2 separate regions of the Homo sapiens genome follow, and region 1 is linked to region 2. The links come from fine-mapping of genetic effects on gene expression. A gene starts in region 2. The other region holds a variant in brackets. All regions are shown on one strand. Distances are from middle to middle. Region 1 overlaps YWHAZ (tyrosine 3-monooxygenase/tryptophan 5-monooxygenase activation protein zeta). Region 2 holds the start of YWHAZ (tyrosine 3-monooxygenase/tryptophan 5-monooxygenase activation protein zeta).

What was found. PIP is the estimated chance that this variant, and not a neighbour inherited with it, causes the effect.
Region 1: its variant is fine-mapped to the expression of YWHAZ in whole blood (TOPMed, PIP above 0.99). The same link has a PIP of 0.9 or more in T cells, anterior cingulate cortex, blood mononuclear cells, monocytes, non-classical monocytes and regulatory T cells.

Annotation. Positions count from the first base shown.
Region 1 is chr8:100,924,082-100,926,581 of GRCh38, reverse strand. YWHAZ (tyrosine 3-monooxygenase/tryptophan 5-monooxygenase activation protein zeta) reads left to right here. Exons shown (of 6, transcript NM_145690.3): 3 at 1,543-1,666; 4 at 2,284-2,447. Among named protein-coding and RNA genes, the nearest start is that of YWHAZ, 27 kb to the left of the region's middle. The variant A/G (reference allele first, on the strand shown) is at 1,355.
Region 2 is chr8:100,950,322-100,953,329 of GRCh38, reverse strand. YWHAZ (tyrosine 3-monooxygenase/tryptophan 5-monooxygenase activation protein zeta) reads left to right here and starts at 1,310. Exons shown (of 6, transcript NM_145690.3): 1 at 1,310-1,401. RefSeq lists enhancers at 1-75, 355-1,213, 2,366-2,445, 2,072-2,931 and silencers at 216-895, 916-1,175, 1,406-2,175, 2,566-2,785.

The sequences.
Region 1 (2,500 bases), 26 kb after region 2:
AGTGGTGCAACCTCGGCTCACTGCAGCCTCTATCTCTCGGGCTCAAGCAGTTCTCCTGCCTCAGCTGGGATTACAGGCGCCCGTCACCACGCCTGGCTAATTTTTGTATTTTTAGTAGAGACAGGGTTTCACCATGTTGACGAGGCTCACCTCAAGTGATCCTGCCACCCTAGCCTCCCAGAGTGCTGGGATTACTGGCATGAGCCACTGTGCCCGGCCTCAGGCCAGTATTTTTAAATATCGGTTAATAATTGCAGGAAACATCATTTCAGGTTGACTTTTCTCACCTTTAACCTCTTTATATAGCACAGTGCAATCTGGCCCTACTGCCACTTCATCTGGGTTATCTGTAGCTTGAGTTGTAAAAAAAAAAAAAAAAAAAATTGGGGGAAGAAGTTGGGTTAAAACTGTTCACCTACCCAGCATTGGAACATAATGGGTAAACAAAAAGTTGGAGTTACCATTTAAAAGCATTTTTCAAATTTATATTTTATATATAAGTAGGTGCTATATAAACTAATACTTTTTTTTTGTAAGAATGGATTTGGAATTTAGCTCAGCTGAAAATTGACTTCACCTTGATTCTCAGAGTGTACTTGAACTTTAAAGGAAGTGGGGTAGTGAGAATGGGTGGTTGGGGTTTTTTTGCTTTAATGTTTACCTAATTCTACTACTAGAATTATTTTTCTCCCCCTTAACTGGAAAGAAAAAAATTACACATTTATTGAGACTTCTTCCCATCCCCAACACAATGATCTAATCTTTTTGCTTTAAAATCAGTTAAAGAGTGTAATTTTTAAAATCCTAATCAAATGACTCAGATTGTAATAGTAGTTTTAGACAGAATTTTATAGGATGATGTTTTAATTTTATCTGTTGTCTGGGATGATCTGTAATCGTGTATCTTACTAGCCGAAAATGACTTCAATGAGATTAAAGGTCTGCTCTTTAAAATCTGTAAGTCTCCTACCACTGTCTTTAGGAAAAATAAAACTTTTGAACGGTTTTTTTATCTGTTGTGAGGTTTGCTTGAATTGTGTTGTTATAAATGAAGTTTATTTTGTTCCTCCTTCTCTGGCATGGACTCCTTAAGTGTCTTACATTATTGGTTTCTGCTTTAGTCATTTCTCCAGAGTCCCAAAAGGTTCATCCCGTATGTTCTTTCTATTTTCATGTCATGACCACATGAAACTTCAGATGGAAAGCTTGCCAGCTCATTAGAAAATGTTCCTAAATGTGAACGGTCATGCCCCACATTCATGAAGTCAGCATGTAAATAGATAACATTGTCAGGGACCAATGTTCAATTTTATTGTCCTCAAATAATAAACTGAACACTAACTTCAAACTTAAA[A/G]TATTGCTGCCCAAAGCATTCTGCTTTAAACCACAAATTCATGTGCCAGCTGCATTCACAATTGTATTGACAGTGACTGGGTGTTTAAGTTTTATAACTTAGGCTATAGTTTGTTCTTTAAGAAATGCAAGTTCTTTCAGTTTTGTAAATGTTTTATTCTCACTATGTCTGTTTCTTTTCTTCTTAAGTCTCTTTTGGAAAAGTTCTTGATCCCCAATGCTTCACAAGCAGAGAGCAAAGTCTTCTATTTGAAAATGAAAGGAGATTACTACCGTTACTTGGCTGAGGTTGCCGCTGGTGATGACAAGAAAGGTATGCTGTTTTTAAACCTGTTGGTTGAACTTGTATAAGATAACATAGTGAGGAAGAGTCTCTGAAGCGTACATAATGTCTTGTTTTGAATTGCTTAGAGTGCCGAATAAGGAGTAGCAGTGCTCTTTGTGTTCTGAGAATACACATCTACTGCCTCATACTGCTATTCTAAAATAAATGCTTTCTGAAAAGCCAATATTGTGTACAGGGATGTTTTTTCAAGATTTTAAGAAAAGTGACCAGCCTGAGCAACATCTCTCTCTACAAAAAATATTTTGAAAATTAGCTGGGCATGGTGGTGCAAGCCTTTGGTCCCAGCTAATCTGGAGGCTGAGGTGGGAGGATTGCTTGGGTCTGGGATGTCAAAACTCGTCAATTTTTTAAAAACATAACAATAATGAGATTATAAAGTTGTTTTATCTTGACATTGATCAATGGCTAGTGTGTACCAGGAGAAAGCTCCCTTTAAAAAAAAAAAAGGACCTTGTTCAATTAACAAATATTAAGCTGTTACAGGTTAGTATTTCAAAGGATATGTGAGATATTAAAGGTTTGGTTTGAGGGGTGAAGATATAATGCACACTTTATCTCAGTACGTTTTGGTGTGTCTTATCCAGGGATTGTCGATCAGTCACAACAAGCATACCAAGAAGCTTTTGAAATCAGCAAAAAGGAAATGCAACCAACACATCCTATCAGACTGGGTCTGGCCCTTAACTTCTCTGTGTTCTATTATGAGATTCTGAACTCCCCAGAGAAAGCCTGCTCTCTTGCAAAGACAGTATGTATTTTACCTGTTACGTAGAAATTTAGCAGTCTTTATTATTTGAGCAC
Region 2 (3,008 bases):
CGCCAGCTGGAACCCTGGGGACTACGACGTCCCTCAAACCTTGCTTCTAGGAGATAAAAAGGTAATGATCGTCATGTGCAGTATGAGGTCTTCACGTGAAAGCTTTATTTGGGTAGGAAAACCTAGCCTACGAGAAACGGGTCCGTGCGGTCACGCCTGACTGCCTGTCTCCGGGTCAAGGCTGCCAGGACCAGCTCCAGCCCTCCGCCCGAGAAGGCTGTCCTTTCCCCTCGGAACTCTGGCTTCCCTAAAGCGGCCGCGCCTCCTTCCAGGCCTCACCTCCTGCCGGCTCCGCCCGGCCCGGCCCACCTCGCCCCCACCTCGGCGCCCACCCATTGTCCCCTCGCGCAGTCACCGAGCGCAGATCCCGCGCTCTCGATTGGAACGCCTCCCCATCACTCAGCCACACTCAGGGGCTGGACGCCTCACTCCCGTTTCCGAGCCATAAAAGGTCTAGGACCGCTTCCCCCGAGCCAGCAGGTAAAGCCGCGGCGGCGGGAGGGAGGCCGGGAGGGGCCGCGCGCCCCGGTCGGCCCAGCCGGGGAAGGGGAGCGGCGGGCGGGGCGGGGGGCAGCGCACCACACACAACCCTCCCTTGCCGTGCGACCGCGCCCTGCCCCCGCCCCGGGGCCCCCGCCCCGCAAGTCCTGATCACAATGCCGGAGCCGCCGAGCCACCCTTGTCATCCTGCCCGGGGACGGCCCTGGGGCAGTTACTACCGCGAAGCACGGAGGGTGGGGCGGGCCGGGCCTCGGGGAGGGGTGGGGGGATGTGAAAGGTCCCGGATGTTGCTGAACGGGAGCCCCTTCCAGAGGGAGTGACTGGGGCAAGCGCAGACGGGCTGAGCGAAAGCTAAGGTGGGGGTAGGGAGAGAACGCCTTCCCGCCGGCTGAGAGGAAGAGTGGGCCGGCAGAGGCTGCAGGGGAGAGGGAGAGAGAGGGCGTTGGGGACCCAAAGGGAAGGCGAGGAGTGGGGGATTTGCGTTGGGGAGGAAAAGGAAAAAAGCAGCCTCCTGCCCTAGGTGCACTCGGGACAAGCGTAGAGGAGCTGGAAGCCGAGCGGGGTGGGAGGAGTGGCGGCTGCGGGCGAGGACGCGCGCGCCTCCGCTCGCCCTCCAGCGCGGGCGGGCAGGACGAGCGCCGGGGAGCGGCGGTTACGCGGGGCCCCGATCGCTGTGGGCACCAATCAACGGTTGCCATAGCAGCGTTTGACGTCATCGTGCGTGTGGTGCCCCTGCTGCCGGGGCTGGTGATTGGAGGAAACCCCGTGTCTGCGGAGCGGCTGTAGCCTGTGAGCAGCGAGATCCAGGGACAGAGTCTCAGCCTCGCCGCTGCTGCCGCCGCCGCCGCCCAGAGACTGCTGAGCCCGTCCGTCCGCCGCCACCACCCACTCCGGACACAGGTGAGGAACCCGGCCGCCGCCGCGCCTCGCTTCCTGTCCCAGGCCAGCCTTCCGAACGCGTGGGAGCCGTCCTCGCTCCGTCCCCTCATCCCCACTCGCCCCGCGGTGGCGGCGCCGGGCTGAGGCGGAGTCTCCTCAGCGGACACGGGCGGCGGCTCCTCTTCCGCTGGGCTCGGGAGGGCGGCTAGCGGCCGCCTCCGGCTCCTTGCTTCCGCATCGACGCCCCGGCGCCGATCGGTGCTCGCTCCCCCGTCCTGCCCCCGGGGGTGGGTAGGGCGCCCACACGCGAGATCCCTGGGGATCTCCCTGTCGCCGGCTCCCGAAGGTGGACGAGGCATGGCCGGGGCGCCGCCGGCCGCGATCCATCCCCACCCTTGTCTCTGCGGGCTTCCACCCCCTCCCTCGCCGCCCTTCTCGCTTCCGCCCGAGATAATGACTCGGCGGCGGCGGCGGCGGGCATCGCAGTGGCGCAGGTGAGGCCGCCCCCTCCCCTCTCCCTCGGCCGCCCCCTCCTTTCCCTCCCCCTCGCGCAGCCTCCGCGCTGGGCGCTGCGGCGGCGGGACCCGGCCCTCCCCCACCCCGGGAGGCGGTGGCGCGGCGGGGAGGGGCCGGGGGCCTCGGGGACCCAAGCGCGAGGGAAAGGCCTGGCCGAGAGCGGGCCGGAGCCCAGGCCTGGCGCGGCGGCGCCCGCCAGGTAGACCGGGGCGAGGCTGCGCGCCGGCGGGAGGGGAGTCCACTGCGGGGTGAGGTTTTGGGGTGGGGCTCGCCTGGGACCTAGAGCTGAATTTCCTGGGCTCCGCGGTGGGAGGAAGGACTTGAATTTTCCTGGTGGGGGTGGGGGATGGGTCTGACTTTTTTTGCTCCTTGTGAACGGGCGGGGGAGGTGTGGACGGGGGCTGCAAGTCCAGGTCGGGGTAGAGAACAGGGTGGTGAGCCCGCAGTCGGCTCCCGTGCTTGATGGACTAGAACTGGAGGGTCCCTGCGCTCGGTTTGGGGACGCATATCCTGCTTTGGGGGCGGGTGAGCCTGAGCATAGCCGCTGGTGGCCCGCTCGGCTGGGTGTGGCTCTCGTCCCCTCCCCCACCTGCAGCTGTCGGTCCCTTAGAGACGCTGTACACGGTCACCGGCGCTGATCGGTGGCGGGGAAGGCGCTGGGTGGGAGAGCGGGGTGTGTCCGCGGCGGGGCTGGTAGTGGTTCCGCTTCTGCGGGCTGCTGTGGCGTCTCTGCCCCGGGGTCGGGCGGCTTCGCTCCCCATCTCTCCCCCCCCCCCACGGCTTGGGCGGGGGCGCGGGCTGCTCCTCCCTCTGGCTCCGGTCGGGGGGAGGAATTAACACTCTGCAGTAGGTTGGGCTCCCTGACACAGATCCGCCATGACAAAGGAGGAGAGTCGGGGACTTGAGCCGTGGCTCCGACTTGGGCGGAGCCTGGAGGGGGGTGGTTGCGATACGCGGACCGGAGAATTTGCACTTTAAAGTCCGGGTCTGCCCGTTTTCGTTTCACAGTAACCGACGTCTCAAGTCAGGTAAGGGTTAAATGGGTGCGGTGAGTCCTGCCCGCAGTGTAGAGGCGAGGCCTTGGAGCACTCGTTACTGTGTGAGAAACCTTA